Regions from separate parts of the Homo sapiens genome. Here region 2 is linked to region 1. A link means that fine-mapping ties the variant in region 1 to the expression of a gene that starts in the linked region. Tissue or cell type: pancreas. Region 1 holds a variant in brackets; the other region holds the start of a gene. All regions are shown on one strand. Distances are from middle to middle.

Region 1 (8,965 bases):
GGGGTCAGGGGAGAGGGAGGGCAGGGAGAGGTGGCAGTGAACAGGGTCCCAACTACAAGCTCCCCAGAACTATAAAACCAGTACCACAGGAGTTGAGCTCTGCCCTGGGCTCTGTGAGGTCTTTACCCATTAAGAGAAAAATATCTAGAAGAAGTAACTTTGCTACAACAGAATAGGGACGGAAGGAGCCTGGGCAGAGGAGAGAGGGTGCCAGAGCCTCCAGGCGACTCAAAGGGGACAGAAAATACAGTGCCCAGAGACAAAGACACCCAGAAATAAACGGCAGGCCCAGACTGAAGATGTTGCTCTGCAGAAAACCATGTTTTACTCAGGGGCTTCCAGGGCCTGGACTGTGGGGTGGAGTGCTTCCGAACAGCACCCTGGATGGGAGGGCTGGCGCCAGCCCAGGCTCCGGCACCCACTCACCTCGCCTGGAGGCAAGGAGGGGGCAGGTGTGGGTGATGTGCTCTGACAAATCGTGCGTGGGGCAAGGAGAAAGTTAAGACAACCCAAGGATGGAGAGGAGGAGGGAGTAAAGGATTTTACGGGGTTTTCTATGCAACCTTCCTGTGGCTGTGGTTCAGGGAATGGTTTCTTCTAAATATTTGGTTGGTGACACCATTTCGCAGCTAAGGCAGGATTCCCCCAAGGTAGCACTTAATAATGGCAGCTATTAGACGCTGTGCCCGAGGATACCAACTTCACCTCTAACTGCCCCACCTCCTCCCTACGACAACCTGTGAGGTAAGCAGGGCTGGCATTACTCCCACTTTAGAGCCAAGGAACAGTTCAGAGGTGAACTCACTTGCCCAAGGTACCACAGCGGTGTGTGGAAGGGACGCGACACAAGGTCAGGGCTGACTCCAGTCCCCAAGCCCTCTTCCTCCTCACTGGTCTGATGGACAGAGACAGCGCACAGTGGCCCAGGGGAGGCCTCTTCCTTCCAGAGGAGTGAAATGTGCCCGCCTTGGCCTCTGCCTGCCTGTTTACCATACTCTTCTCCAGTCGAGGAATAAAGCCGTCGGAAGCTCCCCCAGCCCCTGCTCGCTTTCATCCTCACCAGCACCTGGCGGTGTTCAGACCTTTCCTCTACACGGTGGGATCCACTAGATTCTCATCTGAAAGAGCTGCATACCCTTAGGCCAAAACCAGGATATTTTGCTGGTGAGACGGCTAGCTCCACACATGGTCATCCCAGCCAGAGGAGCTGCCCAGTACCCAGATGAGAAAGAGGTCTTGGTGGCTGACGACGCAAGGTGGGGCTGGTACAGCGGGAACTTTGCAGTTTCTGTGAAAGCTAGCCTTGGAGCATGTGACCCACACTGCCTTGGCTGGAACCAGAAGTCAAACGCCTGGGGGGTGTTGGGGCTGCCAGAAGAGGAGTGGCTGCAGAGACCTGGAGCGCCCCACTACCAAACCCCTCACAACCGAGTGTCCCACCCACCTCTCTCATCTCAGGCCCCTCTACCTCCCCCCAAACGTTTCCCTCCCAAAATCAAGTTTCAGAGTAGAAGACTTTGGAGACCAAGTCCCACTCCCATTGAACAGATGGGCCACTGAGGCCAGGAGGGAAGCTGCCCCCCACCAGCCAGCACTGTGTCACCACTCACTTGCCTGCACCACAGCGCCAGGTGTTAGGCCAGGCCAGCAGTTTCCCAGACCGGTGCTCCTGTTTCCTAAGATGTCTGCCAGGTGATCAGCCACCCCGCATTTGCCTCAGCGGTGGAAGAAAAACAAGTATTTACTGGAGGGAATGGAAGGCCCCAACTCTCCTTAAAAAAAAAAAAAAAAAAAAAAAAAAATTCAATCATGTCATTCCCCACTGGGTCCACCTTCATGGTGGAGTTAAGGGGAGGGAGATTTCGAAAAGGGAACGCATAGCTATTGGTTAATAGCTTCTCTGCGCCTCTGTCCTCACCTGTAAAATGGGCACAGTGGTAGCGCCTACCCCACAGGGAGGCACTGAGGACGCCTGGCCTCACACAGAGGAAGGGCAATAGGACTAAAGCAGTTTTCAGGGCCAAGTGGGTTTAAAAGTCCTGCATTCTAGTCCTTGGCCTCCAACTCCTTGGGCTTCTACTGTGAGGACCAAATGACCCAGCACTAAGATCCTTCCCTGACTCAGATAAGTCAGTGCCCAATATGGCCAGGCACCGAGGTAGCCACTGGCAGAGACAATCTCTGCTCTCAAGGAAAGTCTGCCATGTGGCTGCAGCAGAGCTCCTTCCCACTTACCCAAAGCTTTGAGCTCCAATAAATCATCTCAGGAATACCTGGAAAATGGAAGAGATGAGGCGCTCTCCCTGTAGAGGGGAAGAAATGGAAGCACAGAAAGGACTTGGCTCAGAGCCTCTTTCTAGGAAAACATCAACTTCCTTTTGATTTTCCAGGCATCAAAGAAAGGTCTATGCATATGAGAGAAAAAATACCTAGGGAAGGAGAAAAAGGAGAAGAAACAGACAAGAGAGAAAGGAGAAAGAGCTGGGAGCAGGGAAGGAATAGAAGGCCAGCAGGCCAGTGCTGAGAATGCTGGGCAGACCCCCTGCCAGGGCCTGAAATGCTGCCATTGGTGACTCAACCTTTTGTCTTCAAAACTGCAAGGGAGAAAAAAAATCTCACACTAGGGGGCACCACAGCTTTTATCAGCAATCCCATTAGAGGCTAAGGCTGAGAGGCATGAGAGTGCAAGGTAAGTGTCTGAAAGATGGTGAGTGGGAAGGTGAGCTGTGGTCCTGAGAAAGGAAGAGAACCTGGCTGAGGTGTCACTCAGCAGTCCCTGCTGGGGCCCAAAGGCCATTCTCCCTCTCCACTCCTGAAGAGAGGCAGAGAGCCCAGAGCCCCCTTTGAGATGGGGATGGGCATGACCTCTGACATCTCCTGGGTCCTCCCTGCCCTGCCTCCTAGTTCAACGCCCCCTTTGATGTTGGAATCAAGCTGTCAGGGGTTCAGTACCAGCAGCACAGCCAGGCCCTGGGGAAGTTTCTTCAGGACATCCTCTGGGAAGAGGCCAAAGGTGAGTCCTGCCTGGACTGGGTTTGCTCGGTTTCCTTGCAGCCCCACATGGGAGTTCACTCTGTGGGTGATGAGTTTTCCCCAACCTCTGCCTCTCCAAAAGAACTTCTAATTTCCCTTTCCCAAAGATCTGCAGGATAGTGGTTGGCTAGTATTTGTGAGTGGCTCAGAAGGGAGTTCATCATAGTCTTTGTGTTCAAAGAATGTTCTAAGAACTAGTACATTAACTAGCTTTGGGGCCTCAGTTGAACCTCAGCTTCCTTAACTGTAAAATGGAGCTATTTTACCTATTGTGAGAGTCTACAATTATTTGGTGTTACACCGTCTTCACTGCGTAACTTTACTCCACAAACAAAAAGGAATTGGTGCCAAAATAGCACTCAGAACAGGTTCTGCAGCCTGTTAAGCAGTTCCTTCAAATATTAGAGCTTCCTGAGTTAAGCAAAGGGTTTGCTTTGAATCCCCTCACCTTGTAAAAGAAAAAAAAGAAACCGCCCAACTGATTGAGGTGGCAGAAACACCTGCACATCTGCAAAGCACTGTCCTCACCAAGGCGGTGACCCGTCACCCCTGGGGAACAGCAGGGGTAGCATTCACCCCGCTGTGCAAACGAGGAAACCAAGACTCAGAGCTTTGAGGTGACTTGCCCAGGGCACAACAGTCCACACTTGAGTGCCGCCCTCTGACTCCAAGGCCAGTGCTTCCCCACAACCCCCACCATTACATCCCACCTCCAATCTCACCACCGTGGAAGAAAAGCACTAGCAGGACGGTGCACCCAGCATTCTTACTCAACCTCTTGCTTTCCAGAGGCCCCAGCCGACAAGTGATCGCCCACAAGCCTTACTCACCTCTCTCTAAGTTTAGAAGCGCTCATCTGGCTTTTCGCTTGCTTCTGCAGCAACTCCCACGACTGTTGTACAAGCTCAGGAGGCGAATAAATGTTCAAACTGTATGCTGATGTTCCAAATGGGAATTTATTTCAAAGAGGAAAAGTTAATATTTTACTTTAAAAAAATCAAAATAATACAAATAAAAATAATTCTTGGTTTATGGTCTGTGGGAAGGGAATAAAAGGACAAGTAGCAAGGCCAATGTGCATGTTTAGAAAACCTAATCACACCAGCTCACTCAAGCAGAGAAGCTACTGCATGTGCATGCATTGTGTGGAATTAAGACTGGGTTTCTTAGAGAAGGAGGAGAGAAAGGGGGAGAGTAGGAGGGAGAGGGGAAAAGGAGGAGGGAGAGGAAGAGAAAGAAGAGATAAAGTGGGACTAAGAGAAAGAGGGAAGAGAGGAAGAACAAAGACACAGTTCCTTTAAACATCAGGGCTTCCTGAGTGCAAGGCTGCATTAACAGCTTATTAACAACCAGCCAGGGCTGTGTGGACAAAGAAACTTCAGGATGACATTATCGAAGCCAACATCCATTCAAGATTGGAGAGGAAGACAGGAATGCCCAAGAGTGAATCTGAAGTTAGACGTTAAGTGAGGTGCCCAATCACGGCTCTTGGGCACTGCTAGACAGCACTGAAAGAGCTGCATTCTCCTTCCTCCCTTCTCCACTACTGAGAAGGCCTGACAAAGCAAATGCCTCACATGGGCAAGGCTGGCCGTCGCCATGGTTCCCTTACTGATACCAGGTGGGATCCCCAAACATTCCCTCAACTCCAGTTCACAGCAGACACGAGCCTTGACTCTTA[T/C]GTTCCACAACTTAATTCCAGTTACGACACTGGTCTTCCCGGGGGAAGGCCACTCGGTCATGCCCACCTTAGCCTAAACATGTGGACTGACTTGACTGTAGGCAACGGATGGGACACATCGCTAAGGGGAGGGAAAGGCAAAGAACGAGGTGGCCCCAAAGAGCAGCACCACAGACTTGCCAATTCAGCCATCTGAGCGCTTGTGGGAAACATGCAGGAAGCCGTCTGCAGAGACAGTTGGGGTAATGCCCACACTCTGGAAAACCCCTACCACAGAGGGTGCTAGGAGCCGAGCGTCTCCCCAAGTAAAATTCTGGCCGCCACACATGCAGGCACTAACTACTGATCAGGTGCGGCAGGCAGACAGAAACCCAACTGCTCTCCCTCACATAGAAGCTGTGGTCTGTGAATGCCACCGTCATCCAGGGACTCTTAGAAATGTAGAATCTTGGGCAGCACCCCAGCCCTAATCTATCAGGATCTGCATTTTAACAAGATCCCCAGGCTACTTAGTAAACGGCTGATGGGAAATGGCTTAGAATCCCCTTCCCAGGCGTCACAGCACACTGCAGGCCCCCTACTCACCCCTCCACCCTCAGACAGCCATGCCCCTACCTCCCCAGGCACCTGGCACAAGTGGGTACAGAGATCAACACACTTGTCCTGGAACTTAACTGTCTCAGCTCTGTCACTTAGTTGGGATACGACCTTGATTATCACTAACTGCCCACAGCCCTCTTATCAATAGCTACAGAAGAGGAGCAAAGGCCCAATATGGCCAAAGTGGTCAGGAGATGGTTTCTTTTTGAGAAAGCACCACTGATTGGGCTTGGGAGAGGATGGGTACCAGGCTCTGGACAAATGCTGGTCACCTGATGCTTCCCCCACCAAAGACAAGAACTTACTTCTCTCTCAAAGAAATCACAAGCATTATTAACCGCCTGCCTGGGTCATTCAAATAGAAACAGATATTGCGCACCCACTATGGGCTGGGCACTCTCACCTGTGCCAGGCAACAAGGTGTAGTGCAAAGATCTGGGCTTTGGCCTCGGACCTGAATTTGGATACCAGCTCTGTGATCCAGGCCAAGACTGAATTTCTCAGGCTCCTCACATGTAAAATGCCTACCTTGCTGGGTTACTGCCAAGACTGAACATGAGGTCTCACATGAGCTGTAGCTGGCAAAGGGCCCGGCACGTAGCTAAGCATTCAATTACTACAGCAGCCAGCACTCACTGTCACACCCCTGATGTACACCAGGCACCGTGTTAAATGCTCATGCAGATTAATGTGATTTCACTTCATTTTCACAGCAAGCCTACTTATGAGGGAGAAAACTAAAGCTCAGAGAAATTAAGTAACTTTCCTAAAGCACACAGCAAGCACGTGGCCGACTCACAGCCAACGCCACAGGACTCAGGGGCTGCTTTTTCATCCGGTTCCACAGCCTCTCAGCCAGTGCAGCTTCCCTCGCTCTACTGCCTAGGATGAGAGAGGTTTCCATATTCATTCATTTTCCTTCAGAATACACTGGGTGAACTTGGTAGAGGGGTGAGGACAATTTCAAGTCAACAATGGGCAGAAATATAATTTATCAAAGAAAATGGTTGGAGGACACCCTTGAGAAAATGTATTATTTCAAACATGTTCCTGTATCAGCTTTCTTAAACCCACTCCTTTATGGATCGTTTAATGATACCACTGTAACTTGAGGGTCTCTAAAGTGGGGTGTATGTACCCCTAGGGTGAGCGAGCTATTTGCTGGAGAAAAAAATTCTCCTTGTGAAAAAACTTTTACTTTGTGTATAATTAGCATAAGAGCACACGTATTTAAGTTCTCATGCACTTATAGTTGTGTGTTCAGAAATCATCTTGAGAGAGTGCACAGAAAAGGGTTGAGACGCCTCAACTAAGCTACCCACCTTAATCTGAATCCACCTACAAATGTCACTGGCATTTGGGGGGCCGAGGCAGGTGGATCACCTGAGATGAGGAGTATAAGGCCAAACAGGCCAACATGGCAAAATCTCATCTCTACTTAAAATTTAAAAAAAAAAAAATTAGCCAGTCATGGTATTGGGCGCCTGTAGTCCCAGCTACTCAGAAGGCTGAGGCACGAGAATCACTTGAACCTGGGAGGTGGAGGTTGCAGTGAGCTGAGATCAGGCCACTGCATTCCAGCCTGGGCGACAGAGTGACACTCAGTCTCAAAAAAAAAAAAAAAAAAAAAAACCAAAACCAAAAAAAAATGTCACTGGCAAATGAGCACTTTTTAATACAGTGATCCTGAGAGGGACTGGCTGGCCACTAATCACCATCTTTGACAGAGTTTGCTTCTTTAATCACTGTACATTCCGGTGGCCATTTGCCCTTACTTTACAAAAATGAACAAAGCAAAATTAAGGTGCTGAAAGCAAACGATGAGTATCGGTCTCAAGCTTCCTATAGAAAGATGGAAAAACAACAGAAAAGCCAAGAACAGTCACAAGGACCATCACTGAGTGGACAAAGCCAACTGCACATTCAACTGTGAAGGAAATGAAACAAAGTTCAGGACGATGCCAAAAATACATAATCAATGATTGTATCTAAAAGATGAGGCAGCAACAGAGACTTCAAAGGTGTTCAGCATTCTTGGAAGGAAGAGAGCCTTTCTTTTTATGCGTAAGTTTACTTTTTTGGCCGGTGCACTTGTATTCAAGAATACCTTAGTACAAAATAGGAGGGCTGAGTGCAAGTAATGAAACAGAATTTCCTCCAGAGTTTACCCAGAGGCATCAGGAATTCACAGTCCAACGCCCACCATCCAACTGATTCATCAGTACCCCCAGGGACTAGATTTTTCTTCCTCCTACAGCCTTGAGCTGGAAACAAAAAAAAAACAAAAAAAAAAGAAAAGAAAGTACCTACATAGGTCAGAAAGAAGCAGTGCATCTGAGTTCCCAGACAGTAAAATTACTTAACACTCTAAGGCTGTAGAACTTTAAGAATTCTTTTCTGGGGGGAGGCGGGGGGAGGGGAAAGACAGAGTCTCGCTCTGTCACCCAGGCTGGGGTACAGTGCTGCGATCTTGGCTCACTGCAACCTCCACCTCCCGGGTTCAAGTGATTCTTCAGCTTAAGCCTCCCGAATAGCTGGGACTACAGGCGCGTGCCACCCCACCCAGCTAGTTTTTGTATTTTTAGTAGAAATAGGGTTTCACCATGTTGGCCAGCTTGGTCTCGAACTCCTAACCTCAAGTGATCTGTCCGCCCTGGCCTCCCAAAGTGCTGGGATTACAGAAGTGAGCCACCATGCCCGGCCGAACTTTAAGAATTCTTATATGCAGTTTAATTTTACAGAGAGCCACATAGATACTCAAGAAAGTCTCCAGCTGGCCGGGCGCGGTGGCTCACGCCTGTAATCCTAGCACTTTGGGAGGCCGAGGCAGGTGGATCACGAGGTCAGGAGATCGAGACCATCTTGGTTAACACGGTGAAACCCCGTCTCTACTAAAAATACAAAAAATTAGCCGGGCACGGTGGCAGGCACCTGTAATCCCAGCTACTTGGGAGGCTGAGGCATGAGAATGGCGTGAACCCAGGAGGCGGAGCTTGCAGTGAGCCGAGATAGTGCCACTGCAGTCTGGCCTGGGCAAAAGAGCAAGACTCCTTCTCAAAAAAAAAAAAAAAAGAAAGAAAAAAAGTCTCCAGCTACCTGGATTCTTGGGTTACAATGCTGGCCAACAACCAGACTAAACCACTGCATCACTCAGGTAAGTCTATACAAACACGGAGAGACTGGGTTGGCTAGAGGATCCATCACTTTATTTTCAGAAAAAGATGGCCAAAGAGGGGAAAAAATACAGAGGCATTCCCACAGCACAGTGAAAACAATTAGCCATCCAAAAAGCTGAATCAAAAACAATGCCAATCAGCTTTCACGCCCACACAGGTGAGGTTTCACTGTGCAACAGCACATAAATGATAATCTAAATCCTAGAGAGAAAAGTAGATAGCACCTTGTGCTTTTCCTTGGCAGGTGGATGGCACAGGCTTGGAGACTTCCATGTCATCTCCGCTTTTCCTCCTCTAACACAGGGCTGGTTGGTTTCACCTGCAGGCACTACTGACTTCAGGGCTTGCTGGAGAGGAGATGGTTGTGCTGCAGTTCACTTGGTGACTATAAACACTTTGATATGCTCGGCAGTCCCCCAAGTCTTCCAAGCAGGAAATCAGGTCCCCCCCGACTTCCCACATGGGCCAATCTGCA
Region 2 (15,586 bases), 36 kb after region 1:
TATTTTTAGTAGAGATGGGGTTTCACCATGTTGGCCTAACCTCAAGTGATCTGCCCGCCTTGGCCTCCCAAAGTGCTGGGATTACAGGCATGAGCCACCGTGCCTGGCCTCTAATACTAATAATAAATTTGATGACTCCCAGGGCCTGCCCTGTGAGACACAGCCCCAACTTCCCAGCCCACTTCTCTAGTGCCCTCTTCTGCCTGCCACCAACCACCTGCCACCCTTGGCCCATCACACCCTCTTACACATTTGCTAGCACATCTTATCTCCTCTGCTTGCCATGTCCTTGCCTCCGTCCCATTTTGTGTTCCCACCTGTCTGTTAAGGCCCCATCTCCACTGACTGCTTCTCCACCCCTGCCCTCTGCTCCCGCTGTAGCCACATATACAACACAGAGGGTGAGATCTGCAACAAACTGAGGAGTATCTGCACCCTCAGACGGGCAGCTGCTCCTCACCTCTAACTGGTGCCATTTGAGAGTAGAGAATCAGAGTTAGAGATTCTGTTTCTTTCAAGTAAAACCAGAAATATTGAATTTAGTGCACTTTTCAACCATTAAGCAAGCACTTACTAAGCACTTACTCTGTGCCAGCAGGCACGGTTCTGGACCTGTGGGTTTAGCGTTCAATAAAAAAAAAAACAAGGCTGGGTGTGGTGGCTCATGCCTGCAATTCCAGCACTTTGGGAGGCCAAGGCAGGAGGATCATTTGAGCCTAGGAGTTCAAGACCAGTCTGGGCAACATAGCAAGACCCCATCTGTACAAGAAAAATACAAAAATTAGCTGGGTGCAGTGACCCACACCTGTAGTCCCAGCTACTCCAGGAGCTGAGACAGAAGGATTGCTTGAGTGTGGAAGGTCAAGGTCACAGTAAGCCGAGCTTGTGCCACTGCACTCCAGCCTGTGGAGACGCTCCAAACTTTTGGAGACGCTGTCTCAAAAAAAAAAATAATAGTAATAACACACAAGAACGTCTGCCTCCTGGAGCTCACATTTTAGCTGGTAAGGGAAGGGAAAACCAGGAGAAAGGTAAGACAAGTGAAATATGTATGTTAGAGAGTGATAACTGCCAAGGAGAAAAACAAAATAAGAAAAGAGGACATAAAATGGGGAGGTGATGTCATTCAATTCTTCAGTTCAAGGTAGGGACTTAGACTGGAGTCATAAATTCTATTTTCTGAGACAGTCTCACTCTGTCGCCCAGGCCGGAGTACAGTGGCGCCATCTCAGCTCACTTACAACCTCCGCCTCTCAGGTTCAAGTGATTCTCCTGCCTCAGCCTCCTGAGTAGTTGGGATTACAGGCATGTGCTACCACACCCAGCTACATTTCGTATTTTTGGTAGAGACGAGGTTTCTCCATGTTGGCCAAGCTGGTTTTAAACTCCCAGCCTCAAGTGATCAGCCCACCTGAGCCTCCCAAAGTGCTGGGATTACAGGCATGAGCCACCGCACCCAGCCTGGAGTCATAAATTCTTAATGTGAATTGTCTCAAAATGTAAATACTGTTAAGGACCTAGCAGGCTACATCCAGTCCACAGACCAGCAGTTTTGCCACCTCTGGTTGTGAAGACCAAGACTGGAGTTGGGGGAGAAAAAAAAAAATTAGGAGTATAATAATATACCTTATATTTTCATACAGATTTACAATTTACAGAAGTGCTACAGCCGTCATACTTCTTTTACAGAAAGTGAAACTGCTACATGGCTTGTAAGTGGCAGAACCGGGATTCAAACTCAAGTTCTCCCTAACATCCTGGAAGCCAAGGGAAAGGAGTAATGAAATATGAAAGTGAGAAACACTGTTGGCTGGGCATGGTGGCTCCTGCCTATAATCTCAGAACTTTGGGAGGCTGAGGCAGGCAGATCACTCGAGCCCACAAGTTCAACACCAGCCTGGGCAACATGGCAAAAAAACCCCTCTCTACAAAAAATACAGAAAAATTAGCTGGGCATGGTGGTGCACGCCTGTAGTCCCAGCTACTTGGGAGGCTGAGGCAGGAAGATCACCTGAGCCAGGAGGTCAAGGATGCAGTGAGCCAATTGCACCACTGCACTTCAGCCTGGGTGACAGACAGGAAAGGAGGGAGGGGGAGGGGGAGGGGGAGTGGGAAGTGGGAAGGAGGAAGGGGGAAGGGGGAAAAAAAGAGAGAAAGTGAGAAACACTCTCCTAGGCTGGAGGACCTAAGATGGATCAACGACACCGAGGATGAGTTTCAGCAGGTGACAGTTGGCTCTAAAGGTAAGAAGTAGGTAGACCATGGGCAGAAGGTAAGAGACAAACCACCTGACTTCATAAAGGGGAGAGTTCGTTCTTCCTGGAAGCACTGCTTGGTGAACTGTGCATCTCCAAAGGAAAGAAGGAAAGATAAGTGGAGATGTTGCTCCAGCCCTATCACCAGTAGCCTGAAGGATTTCAACAGCTCCTCACCAGCTCCCTGTCTTCTCCCTCCTACCCTTTCTCTGCAGCGTGCCAGAGGAGCTCTAAAATGCAAACCCCACCACTTCAGCCTTAGTTTAGAACCCTTCCAGGGCTCCACATTTGCCTACAGAATAATCCCTACCCCTGAGCTCATCAGGAACCCTTCACAGACTGGCCCCAGCCTTCCTGTCTAGCCTCATCTCCTGCCTTCCTCCAAACACGCAAGTGTCCAGGGAACGCAGGAGAGCACGGATGAGAGAAGGGAGGGCCAGCAGTGCCCCAAGCACTCCAGACAAGCAGCATTTCCTGACATTTTGGGCATGTATTGCTCCCTATGCCCGAAATGTCCTGTCCCCCTCCTTGTCCATCAGTAAGACTCAGATGTCACCTCTTCTGTGAGGACCTTCCTGATGGTCAGTCGCTCATTCCCCTGACCCTTGGGTACTCCAAACCCATCCCTGTTACAGCTCTCCACTCACTGCCCCGTGGTGAGTGACTTCTCAGTCTGTGAAGCATGGCCCGATTGTCCTTGGCAACAACAGCCCCAAGCCTGGTGTTCCACGTGTGCACTAGACATGTGCCAAGTGGAGATGCAGGAAAGGGGATGTGCAAAAGCTCTATCACTCAAGAGCCTCAATACCCAGTGCTTTACTGTGCCTGGGCTAACTCACCCTGCAGAGAGCTCCGCAAGGGAGGGACCCTGGCACCTTCGTCTTGCCACCCCTACATCTGATGCCAGGCTAGAACAGAGCAGGTGCTCCCAGAGGCAGCAGTGCAGAGAACACTGGCTTTGAAGTTGGACTAATCTGATATTACCCCACAGCTCGGCCATTTACCAGCTGCATGGCCTTGGTCAGCTTATTTAACCTTTCTGAATCTCATCTGCCCAGTGCCTACACAGAGTAGGTGCTTAAATATTTGTTAATTGATATGAAGGTATTTACTAATGGATATGTGGAGATAATACCACCTACTTCACGACACTTTTGGGATTATGTGATAGTCTATAGATCAAACATCGAGAATCATAGTTGACCAAGCCTTATCATACATGCTCAAATTTTCCCTTCCATTCTTTCAACTCTAAATTGAATGTAGACATTTAGATGTCATAGTAAAAATAATCTTTACTACATGAAGGTGCTCGTCACACAGTTAGTCTCCTCTGTGAAGAGTAAATGAAGATCATCAGCTAACATGAAACATCTCCAACTGTCCTGGAGGTAAGAAGGGAACGATGTGAGGTCAGCCAGCAGGGATCTCTACCGATTCTAAAATGACCAGTCTAACACCTTCCCCTCAGAATATTCTGTGACCTGGCACAGAGAAAGATGTGTTAAAGGCTGGTGGGAGAAGGGAACAAAGTCAACTGTGTAACCCTCAAAGTTTACAGAGCAAGGCCAGGCACAGTAGCTCATGCCTGTGATCCCAGCACTTTGGGAGGCCAAGGTGGGAGGACTGCCTGACCCCAGGAGATTGAGACCAGCCTGGTCAACATAGGGAGACTCTTGTCTTTACAAAACACAAAAAATTAGCCAGGCAGGCCAGGCGCGGTGGTTCACGCCTGTAATCCCAGCACTTTGGGAGGCCTATGCAGGCGGATCACGAGGTCAAGAGATCGAGACCATCCTGGCTAACATGGTGAAACCCCATCTCTACTAAAAATACAAAAAAATTAGCCGGACATGGTGGCGTGCACCTGTAGTCCCAGCTGCTGGGGAGGCTGAGGAAGGAGAATGGCGTGAACCCGGGAGGCGGAGCTTGCAGTGAGCCGAGATTGCACCACTGCACTCCAGCCTGGGTGACAGAGCAAGATTCTGTCTCAAAAAAAAAAAAAAAAAAATTAGCCAGGCAGGTTGGCACACGCCTGAGTTCCACCTACTTGGGAGGCTGAGGCAGGAGGATCGCTTGAGCCCAGGAGGTTGAGATGCAGTGAGCTATGATCATGCCAGTGCACTCCAGCCTGGGTGACAGAGCAAGACCCTGTCTCAAACAAAAAAAAAAAGTTTACAGAGCAGACACAGGAGAGCAGTGAGAGGACTCTAGAAGGACCTGAGGATGAACATGCCATTTTTGTGAGTACCCCTCGGCTGTGCTTGCTGAAGGACTTAGGACCAGGACAGATAAGTTCACAGATGACCACAGAGCAAGGGAGGAAGAGGTACAGATGAAGGTGGAAGGTAAGAGGTGTTTTGTAATTCATCAAGATGAGTCAAGTACTGTACACTTGGTTTTTAAACTGACAAACATATACTCCAGGAAGAGACTTCAGCAGTCCTAGAGATGGACAATCAGGGTAATATAAAAACCCTCACTCGACAAGAGTGATCTTTCTACAATGCAATTTCCTTTTCTGTGTAGAGCCCTGTATAAATTCTCTAATTGCTTAGAAGACAATCCAGCTGGCACAGTGGCTCATGCCTCTAATCCCAGCGCTTTGGGAGGACAAGGCAAGAGGACAGCTTGAGCCCAGGAGTTTGAGACCAGCCTGGGCAACACAGTGAGATCTTCATCTCTACAAAAAAAAAAATTTTTTTTTTTTTTTTTTTTTGAGACTGAGTCTCACTCTGTTGCCCAGGCTGGAGTGCAGTGCCTTGATCTCGGTTCACTGCAAGCTCTGCCTCCTGGGTTCATGCCATTCTCCTGCCTCAGCCTCCCAAGTGGCTGGGACTACAGGCACCCGCCACCATGCCCGGCTAACTTTTTGTATTTTTAGTAGAGAAAGGGTTTCACCGTGTTAGCCAGGGTAGTCTCAATCTCCTGACCTCGTGATCTGCCCACCTCGGCCTCCCAAAGTGCTGGGATTACAGGCGTGAGCCACCACGCCCAGCCCAAAAAAAAAATTTTTAATCTGCAGGGTGTGGTGGCACATGCCCATATTCTCACCTATTTAAGAAGATTGCTTGACCCCAGGAGTTTGAGGCTACAGTGAGACATGATTGCGCCACTGCACTTCAGCCTGGGAAATCGTTTCAAAAAAATAAAATAATTTTTTTAAAATAAGAATACAATTGGCCGGGCATGGTGGCTCACACCTGTAATCCCAGCACTTTGGGAGGCTGAGGCGGTCAGATCACTTGCAGTCAGGAGTTAGAGACCAGCCTGGCCAACAAGGCGAAACCCCATCTCCACTAAAAATACAAAGATCAGCTGGGCACGGTAGCGCACACCTGTAGTCCTAGCTACTTGGGAGGCTGAGGCAGGAGAATTGTTTGAACCCAGGAGGTGGAGGCTGCAGTGAGCAGAGATCATGCCACTGCAGTCTACCTTGGGTGACACAGTAAGAATCTGTCTCAAAAAAAGAGAATACAATTCTAAGGGAATTGTCCCTTAGAATAAAATCCATTGTCCTTAGGATAAAATCCAAATTCCCTTGGCTACTAAAACCTTGCTGCAATCCACCCCCTACCTCGCTCTCCAGCCTCCATTCTGGGCTCACTACTCCATCATACCACATTGTGGGCAGTCATGCGACCACTCCTCCAGCCCTCCCACCAGACTGCTCCCTAGAAGCTCATCACTCCCAGACCCAACAGTGCGTGGCCCACAATAACCCTCAAGTGCTTCTACTGAAACCATTAAATTGGGTTCTTGCAAAACAAGGCCCCTTTAGCCTTAATGAGAGAAAGGTGGGTCCACCTACAATTAGACCCACCCAGATTAGAGACCACACCCTCAAACCTGAGTTCCAGGTCTTTAGGACAGCCAGGGATTCAGCACACCTGAAAGACTATGTAAAGTAAATTTCCTGCCTCTCCCAGTAACAGGTTTCACTCTATCTACAAATTGTCAGTGAAGCTAAATTGAATCAACTGGTATTATTTTATGCTGTACCCAAGTCTACTGAAATTGTATCAAGGATTAATGGCAAGATTAACTTGTATGAGCAAAGTCCCATACTTACCTGATTTGAGACAAATTCAGCATTCCTACGCTAGAGACAGGGCTTTTCAACTCACTGTTATTTGTGAATTTAAAAAGAAAAAATCCACGTGCCCACACAAGAGTTCAGACAGTGAGGTCCACATTGAAAAAACCAGGGGCACTTAGCCTATGAGTCCCCAAGACAAACAGTCAAATACAGCCTCCTTTCTCAGCTACACAAAAGAAACCACCAAGGCTAGGCTTAAAAACAAACACATATTCCTTAGGGCCTGTTTTAATTGCTTTTGTAAAGTAATTTTCTCTAGAGGCAGCCCATCTGATCCCAAATAAGACTGTTTCTCCACTCCTCCACAGGCAGAACTTCTCACTTCTTAAGACTCAGACCTTCAAAATCTAGGATGCAAACTCTAAGGGGAAAGTGATCTGTTTTGTTAGTAAAGAATCCCAAACACCTAGAACATTGCCTGGCACAAACTAAACCCTCAACACATATTTGTTCAAAGCCTTGATTGAGTAGATGAGCGAAATGTATCTTCTCTGTGAAGCACTCCTTGGTCTGCTCAAAGTACTTATGAAACCCTCTTGCATGTTTCCATTAGGGAATTAACAATTTAACCTCCAAAAAAAAAAGAAAAAAAAAAAAAACTAGCACCACCAAGCAAAACCCCAACATGCTGGAAACTATGACTTTGGAGAAAAGCTACACCAAGAACCGCAATTCTTGGTTCTGTGATTCAGAGTGGTTCAAAGTACAAGGGCACACAATTCTTTAAACTGACAACTAAAATAAATACATTCTTCTCTTGAGCACATAATCCACCTTCTACTGCAGTGATTCTCCAACGGGGCTGCACGTTTACAATAACCTGGGGAGCACTGAAAAATCTGGAAGCCCAGACCACACCTCAGCCCAATAAATCAGTTTCTCTGGAGTAGGAGGCAGGCCCAAGTATTTTAAAGCTTTCCAAGTAGTTCCAAAGTGCTGCCGAGTTTGAAAATTACCTCTCTACTTAACTTCAGGCCACGCGCCTGGAAGACTGCTAGGTCTTCGAGTTTGGGGGGAGTGGACTTCTAGAAAGACCTTCCAGACCTTCAAGGATGTAATGTTTTGTAGTCTCCTTCCACCAAAATTCCCATCCCCAACCTCTCAAGCCATGTGGAAGGGGCTTCACCGATTGCAAAGCGTGGCAGCCACCTACCTTAAGGCTGCAGGCTTCCTCCTCTAGAGAAGCCATTTCTTCCAAAGAGGCGTTGGCAGGACGCAGAGGGGATCCCCCTGAAGACAGGAACCCCCGAGTGTTCCGAATCAGGCAGCCTTTGGAGGCGGCCCCGCCCACACCAGGGCCCAAGAAATGTGGGGAGAAGGAGGAGGAGGAGTTATTTCTGCGGCGGGATGAGCCCCAGGATAACCTCCGCGAGCAAGCCACATCGTCCTCCTTCTGGGCTTTCAGGCGCTTGGGGCTGCTGGGCCCTCCAGAACGCGACGCAGACCTCTGAGCTGGCCGGCTGGAGGGGGCCACATCACAGGGCTCCCGGAGGCAGCTGCGCTTGCGGGGACACCCTTCCGACGTGCTGCTCCAGTTGTGCTTGACCTTGCCCCGCTCGGACGCCATGGGCACCTGCAAGGTACAGGGGGCCTGGATTCCAACACCACCCTTCCTGGCGACCCCACCTCAGATTCCCGCCACCCCGGGCCCAGGAGGACGGCAAGACATAAGGGCAGAGCCAGGGGCTAGCCTCACTGACCTTTCCCTCTTCTTTCCACTGCCCATCACAGTTCTCAAGGTTTCAGAGATGCCAAACCGTGTTGGAGAAGTCAAAGCGATCCAAAATTGACTAAAGGCTGCCGTCGGTTTCCAAGCCCACAACGTGCTTCTGAGATCAGGAAGCCTTCACTTTGCCCAGCGCTACTTCGGAGATGCCTAAGCGCTTCCGGGGCTACGAAGCGCTTTGATCAGTTTGCAATATAAAGCCCTTTAGAACTGTCAAGCGCTTCAGAAGACCACATGGCGCTTCAAGATCCACACATGGCTGCCGGATCCGCGGCCCCGGGGCCGGGCGCTTAGCCCGTAGGCCAGGGCCAGACCCGGGCGCCGCAGCCCGCCCTGCTCCTGCGGCCCAACCAGACCCGGGCCGGAAGGGGCCCGAGCGGCCCCTCGGGAGCTGGCAGCGCCCTCGACCGCCAACTCAGGACGCCCCCCGCCGGCTGCCGCAGCTGTCCCGCCGGGCAGCCCGCCGCCTGCCCCAGCCCTACAGCCCCGCCTGGCCCGGCCTCCGCCCGAACTGCGACCACTCCGGCCTCCGTGGCGCCCGCCCTCCGGAACGAGCCCTGCGGCCCGCAGGCCGGAGAGCGACAGGGGCGGGGCCTGCGCCAAACGGAAGGCGCCCATTGCTCGACCCGGCAAGGGGCGGGACTCCGAGCAAGACGCAGCCCGCCTCAAAGCCAGGCGCCTTGGAGTCGGGACGGTACGCCTTAGGAAGCTCGTCCATTGGTCAGAAGCCAGATGGGGCGGAGCCACTCACGTGGGCTCGAACAGCGGGAAGTTGAGGCCAGCCAGATGTGCAGGCAGGTGGTGTCCGCTGACGCGCCTCACTTAACGCTGTTTTCCTCAGCGCCGGCCGCTGTACCTGAAGCTTTCAGACCTGGATTTCTCATCGAGCCAAAGCAAACCGTGTACTGAGCATTATCACCCCACTTTATAGAGCAGAAAACTGTGGCTCAGAGAGACTAAGTACACACCCAGAAATGGGAAGAATTAGAATTAGAAGGCACCAAAAAAAAAAAAAAAAAGACTACACAAAAATGTGAACTATCCGCCTGGTGAAAAATATTAAAGACGGCTGGGCACGGTGTCTCACGCCTGCAATCTCAGCACTTTGGAAGACCGAGGCGGGAGGATGGCTTGAGCTCGGGAGTTAGAGACCAGCCTGGCCAGCATGGTGCGACCCCCATCTCTACAAAAAATAAAATTAGCTGGGCGTGATGCCAGCTACTCAGGCTGAGGTGGGAGGATCACTTGAGGCCGGGAGGTCGAGGCTGCAGTGAGCTGTGATCCCGCCACTGCACTCCAGCCTGGAGGACAGAGCAAGACCCTGTCTCAAAAAAGAAAAAAAATCAAAGACAAGGTACAAATTCAGAAAAATACTCGAAACATATGACAAAGGGCTGATATTCGATGTAGCAATTCTCCCAAAATAATAAAATAACTTAGTATTAAGACTGGCAAAGGAGGCTGGGTCCAGTGGCACACGTCTGTAATCCCAGCACTTTGGGAGGCCGAGGTGGGTGGATCTCTTGAGGCAAAGAGTTCGAGACCAGCGTGGGCAACATGGTGAAATCCTGTCTCTAGTGAAACACAAAAATTAGCCTGGTGTGGTGGTGGGCGCCTGTAGTCCCAGCTACTCAGGAGGCTGAGGTGGGAGGATCCCTTGAGCCTGGGAAGTCGAGGGTCCAGTGAGCCAAGATTACTGCCACTGCACTCCAGCCAGGGAGACAAAGTGAGACCCCTGTCTCAGGGAAAAAAAAAAAAAAAGGCAAAGGAAGCAATGAACAAAAACAAATCATGAAACGCTCCTAAATATAAGAAAGATGGCTCCACCTCAACCATTAAAAAAGTACATGTAAGGCCAGGTGTGGTGGCTCACGCCTGTGATCCCAGCACTTTGGGAGGCCAAGGCGGGCAGATCACGAGGTCAGGAGATCGAGACCATCCTGGCTAATACGGTGAAACCCCGCCTCTACTAAAAATACAAAAATTAGCCAGGCGTGGTGGCAGGCGCCTGTAGTCCCAGCTACTCGGGAGGCTGAGGCAGGAGAATGGCGTGAACCCAGGAGGTGGAGCTTGCAGTGAGCCAAGATTGCGCCACTGCACTTCAGCCTGGGTGAGAGACTCCGTCTCTAAAAAAAAAAAATTAATTAATTAAATTAAATTAAAAAGTACATATAAAATTATAATTTTCCACTCGTTAGATTGGCAATAATCAAAAAACAAGGTAAGGGGCCGGGTGCGGTGGCTCACGCCTGTAATCCCCGCACCTTGGGAGGCCGAGGTGGGTGGATCACGAGGTCAGGAGATCGAGACCATCCTGGCTAACATGGTGAAACCCCATCTCTACTAAAAATACAAAAAAAAAAACAAAAATTAGCCGGGCCTGGTGGCAGATGCCTGTAGTCCCAGCTACTCAGGAGGCTGAGGCAGGAGAATGGTGTGAACCCGGGAGGCAGAGCTTGCAGTGAACCAAGATCACGCTACTGCACTCCAGCCTGGGCAACAGAGCAAGACTCCATCTCAAAAAAAAAAAAAAAGCAGGATAATATACCTTGTGGCTGAGGATGTGAGGAAATGCACTCCCATACATCCCTGATGAACGTGTTAATTGATACAATCTCCTTGGAAGGTGGCATTGTCTGTAGTAGCTAGAATGAAAACAAAACCTCAATCTCTATCAGCTGGTTATATACATTAAGGAATATCCATACAATGGAATGTAAGGCAAAAAGAATGAAGTGATCTAAACTTACTGTTGAGGAGCAATAGCCAAGAAAGACATGAAAAAACAAAGGACCTAGAAAAGCATTAACAAAACACATGTGTGGCTAAATAGAGAGGAGTGGCATACAAAGGTAAATGTGGCTTTCTTTTTTCAAATGCCTGAGGGTAACCACTTTGTGTGTTCCTTTCTAACAGCTTTAAGATATAATTTATATACCATAAAGTTCACTCATTTAAAGTGTATGAGCAGCAGGCATGGTGGCTCACGCCTGTAATCCCAGCAATTTGGGAGGCCAAGGTGGGCAGATCACAAGGTCAGGAGTTCAAGACCAGCCTCAACAATATGGTGAAACCCCATCTCTACTAAAAAGAAATACAAAAATTAGTAGGGCATGGTGGCATGTGCCTGTAATCCCAGCTATTCAGGAGGCTGAGGCAGTAGAATCGCTTGAATCTGGAAGGCAGAGGTTGCAATGAGCCAATATCGTGCCATTGCACTCCAGCCTAGGCAACAGAGGGAGACTCTGTCTCAAAACAAAAAAGAAGAAAGAAAACAGGTGTATGACCAGCTGGCCTGGTGGCTCACTCCTGTAATTTCAGCAAGACTGTAATCTAGTTTGTCTTGATAGATTTGCCTATTCTGAAAAAATTAAAAATGGAATCATACAATATGTGACTTGCTTTTTCTTACCATGATCTCAAGGTTCATCCATGTTGTAACGTGTCAGTATGTTTGAAATGCTTGTTCCCCAGTGCCATAAAGAAATAGCACTTGAACATAAATAATTTTCTCAGCAAGGCCATTTTTACACTTTCTGCAGAAAGGGTACACTCGCCAGCAGTTTTGCCACGAGTACACCCAACAAAGGAGACAGGGTCATTTATAACCTGACGTATCCACCCTACCTCTGGGTCCAGTTTCCATTGGCTGAAACGGGACTTCACATTCTGTATTTGTCTTGATTGGCTAACAACTTAGAATTTTTTCAGAGGCAAAAGCAGAGGAGAACAAAGGAAGGAGGAAGTAACTTGTGGAATGCTGAGAAAGGTAAAAACACTTTCAAATAAGGAAGAGGAACAGGCTATGACTTAATGCTTGCTTGCACCAGTATAACCGTGCCAGGGCAAATATTTAGGCTAAATTGTGGGAGTTAAGAACATAAAGTACATTGATTTATTATGGCTAGCAGGTATTTAAGAATGTTAGGTCTTTGAATAAATTTTGCTTCTAAGAGAAGTTACTATTTATTCCTAATTAGATGGGGAGGAAAGTCTTTGAAGAGGAACCTCTACTTTACTTTTCACAAGTACTTAATTCTTTTCTATGGCTGAATATTCCATTGCATGAATAGACCGCATTTCATGTATCCACTTATCAGTTGATGGATATTTAGGTTGTTCCTATTTTTTGGCTGTTATAAACATTGGTGTGCAGGCTTTTGTGTGGACATGTTTTCATTTCTCTTGGGTAGATACCTAGGGGTAGAATTGCTAGGTCATATGGAAATTCTTACCTTTTGAGGAAGTGCCAAACTGTTTTCCAAAGTGCTCACCATTTTCAATTCCCACCAACAGTGTGTGTGGGCTCCAATTTCTCCACATCATGGCCAACACTTGTTTTTGTCTTTTTGATTATAGCTATCCTAGTGAATGTGAAGTGGCATCTCATAGAGGTCTTGATTTGCATTTCCCTGATGACTAAGTTGAGCATCACCTCTGTTTTCCATCACCTCTGGAAGGATACTCCAACCTAGTGACAGTGGTTGCCTTTGGGAACAAGAAACTGGAGACTAAGATCCCATTGAGAAAAAGCCTGCCTTCTCACCATGGAACCTTTGTACTGTTTAGATTTTTAAATCCTCTATTAACCTAAAAAAAAATAATTCAGGGCTTCCCTACGGGGGATCCATGAAAAGACATCATGGTGCCCATGAAGGTCTGGAATTCATGGACTCAGAACGCATATGTATGTATGTCTGTATGTAGCAAAGGTCTAGAGCTTTCATCCAAGTCCCAAGGGGATTTACTGACTTCTCCAAAAATATATGAAATCCTAGTCTAGAAATGTAAGTATGTCTGGATAACCACAAACCTATTGGTGTCAGCCCTCTATTGCGCAAACAGCCCTGGAAACACTCTGCTTATAATTGTAAAGTGTTCGCAACAGGCCAGGTCCCATTTGGGGCACAAAATGCACATTCACCTTGAATCCTCACAGACACCAGAGCTGAAGACAGGGCTGTCTGTATAGATCACTGTCCACCTGGACTGGGACCCAGCTCAGCTACATCACACATCAAGCCAAAGCTGTCCTTACTGGGGAGCTGCCAAATGTTTCACCAGGCAGGACCCATCCAACAACAACCCTACAAGATGCGTACGTTTTCTTTTTCCCATTGTACAGATGAGGAAACAGAGCCTCAGAGTAACTCCCTAACTGGGCCCAAGATCATGCAGCTATTAACAGTCAACAGTAAGAGCCAGGATCCTAGCTCTTTGCTACCCCATCTCAAGGATACAGAGTGCCTTCTCTAAACAAATTCTTCCAGACACAAAACTAATTACAAGTTGTCTGTCGACTTTACAAATATATTTTTATTATATAAAAAGAAATTACTATAGATTACTTTAAATAGGATATTTCTCCCAGTGAATTTAAAATAGCATCTGTTTCACAGAAAGATTTGCAACATGACTTTTCAGATATATACGCACTGAATAATCATTAGGTACATGGCAGAAATACACATTTAATACCTTTTTATTTTACAAAACAGGACAAGTGCATTTTCCAAGTGCTTCTATAGCCACTGTCTCATCTGTTCCTCCCAACAGCCCAGGGATGAAGAACAAGCAGGTGTTATTTTACTTACAAAGAAACTGAGGTCCCAAAAATTAAATGATTGACTTAATTAGCAGCAGAATCAGACATGAAATGCATTCTCCTGATTCTTCATAATCCAGTCATAAATAACAACACATATTCTCGGCCGGGTGCGGTGGCTCAAGCCTGTAATCCCAACACTTTGATAGGCCAAGGCGGGCAGATCACGAGGTCAGTAGTTCGAGACCAGCCTGGCCAATATGGTGAAACCCTGTCTCTACTAAAAACACAAAAATTAGCCAGGCATAGTGGCAGGTGCCTACAGTCCCATCTACTCAGGAGGCTGAGGCAGGAGAATCACTTGAACCTGAGAGGCAGAGCTTGCAGTGAGCTGAGATCGTGCCACTGCACTCCAGCCTGGGTGACAAAGTGAGACTCTGTCTCAAAAAACAAACAAACAGACAAACACATATTCTCAGAATAAAAGCTCCATTAAAAAACACTAACATTAGTGGGATGGGAAGATAAAGGTACCAGGCAGTGACTGAATAATTATGTGAATTGCAAGATTTCCAATACAGGCAGTGGAAAGCCTGCAGAGCTCTTCGCTAGGTGTCTGGCATTTGTAGAACCTGAGGCCCAGAGAGGTGAGTCAAGAACTGCACTGAGACACAAGTTGAAAGTCTTCCAGGCCAGGCACAGTGGCTCCCAACTGTAATTCCAGCACTTTGGGAGTCTGAGGTGGGAGGATTGCGCCAACAAAGCGAGACCCCATCTCTACAAAAAAATTAAAAACTAAAAAAAATCTTTCAGAGCATGCAAGCTTGCAGGCTGTCAGCAAATACAACCCAGAGATCTTAGCTCTGGAAAATGCTATGGCATTGCAGAACTGCCAGTGGCGGGGGAACAAGAGCTGCTGAGGTAATGGAATCTGCTGGGGGTGATTATCATCACATACTCCCCGGAACCACAAAATCAGCCACATCCTGGGCCCGTGTGCAGGGTTTCTGCTTCAGTCTCCTCTGATCCCCTGCTCTGACTAACAAAGCCCAGAAAGGAAGAGACTTCATGGATTTTTGTGTCTCTAAAAGCTGAGGGCCTTTCTCTCCCAACTCATTCCAGTGAAATGAAGTTTCCCTCCCACCCAGGACAGCAGATGTTTTGTTGTGTGTTTCCTGGCAGATCTTGGATTCTGCCTCAGACCTTTTTCTTGATCTGATGCTCATCTTTCCAACTGAGGACAAGGGTCCTCAGCTGTGTTCCGGTCATCAGGGGCCAAAGAGCTCAATGCTGTCCACTTTTTCCTCTTTGTAGAGCAGAATATTCTCCATCAGTTTCCTTTTGGCCTCATTGATCTCAATTTGCCACGAAGTTTCTGTAACTGATGTTCAACAGAAAGCAAACAAGAGCGACTTGAATGAAAGTTACTATTATTATAATTCTTAAAGTCACTTAAATCAGGTTTCTGAATCAGGCCCTGAGTGTAATGAGCATTTCTTTTTTTTTTTTTCTTTTTTTTTTATCGAGACAGGGTCTCACTTTGTTGCCCAGGCTGGAGTGCAGTGGCACAATTTCAGCTCAAGGCAACCTTGACCTCACAGGTTCAGGTGATCCTCCCACCTCAGTCTCCGGAGTAGCAGGGACTACAGGCGTGCACAACCACACCTGGCTTTTTTTTTTTTTTTTTTTTTTTTTGAGATGGAGTCTCACTCTGTTGCTCAGGCTGGACGACACACACAGTTAATTTTTTTGTGTTTTAGTAGAGAAGGGGTTTCACCGTGTTGCCCAGACTAGGCTTGAACTCCTGAGCTCAGGCAACCCACCCGCCTCGGCCTCCCGAAGTCCTAGGATTACAGACAGGCGTGAGCCACCACGCCCGGCCTGTGAGCCACAGCACCCAGCCCATTTATTTATTTATTTATTTATTTATCATTTGTTGAGATGGAGTCTCACTCTGTTGC

Evidence for each region. PIP is the estimated chance that this variant, and not a neighbour inherited with it, causes the effect.
Region 2: it holds the start of TATDN2, and the variant in region 1 is fine-mapped to the expression of TATDN2 in pancreas (GTEx, PIP above 0.99).

Annotation. Positions count from the first base shown.
Region 1 is chr3:10,280,752-10,289,716 of GRCh38, reverse strand. GHRL (ghrelin and obestatin prepropeptide) reads left to right here. Exons shown (of 6, transcript NM_016362.5): 5 at 2,905-3,013; 6 at 3,823-4,051. The coding sequence ends at 3,842. It overlaps GHRLOS (ghrelin opposite strand/antisense RNA), which reads right to left and starts at 8,765. Exons shown (of 6, transcript NR_073568.1): 1 at 8,715-8,765; 2 at 6,114-6,196; 3 at 3,864-3,969; 4 at 2,236-2,303; 5 at 1,615-1,715. LINC00852 (long intergenic non-protein coding RNA 852) reads right to left here and starts at 5,298. Exons shown (of 1, transcript NR_026829.1): 1 at 3,971-5,298. TATDN2 (TatD DNase domain containing 2) reads right to left here. Exons shown (of 8, transcript NM_014760.4): 8 at 8,499-8,965. RefSeq lists enhancers at 957-1,572, 2,438-2,732. The variant T/C (reference allele first, on the strand shown) is at 4,715.
Region 2 is chr3:10,241,536-10,257,121 of GRCh38, reverse strand. TATDN2 (TatD DNase domain containing 2) reads right to left here and starts at 8,663. Exons shown (of 8, transcript NM_014760.4): 1 at 8,055-8,663; 2 at 7,508-7,927. The coding sequence starts at 7,921. IRAK2 (interleukin 1 receptor associated kinase 2) reads right to left here. Exons shown (of 13, transcript NM_001570.4): 13 at 13,377-15,006. The coding sequence ends at 14,894. RefSeq lists an enhancer at 7,227-8,095 and silencers at 8,348-8,777, 14,497-14,566.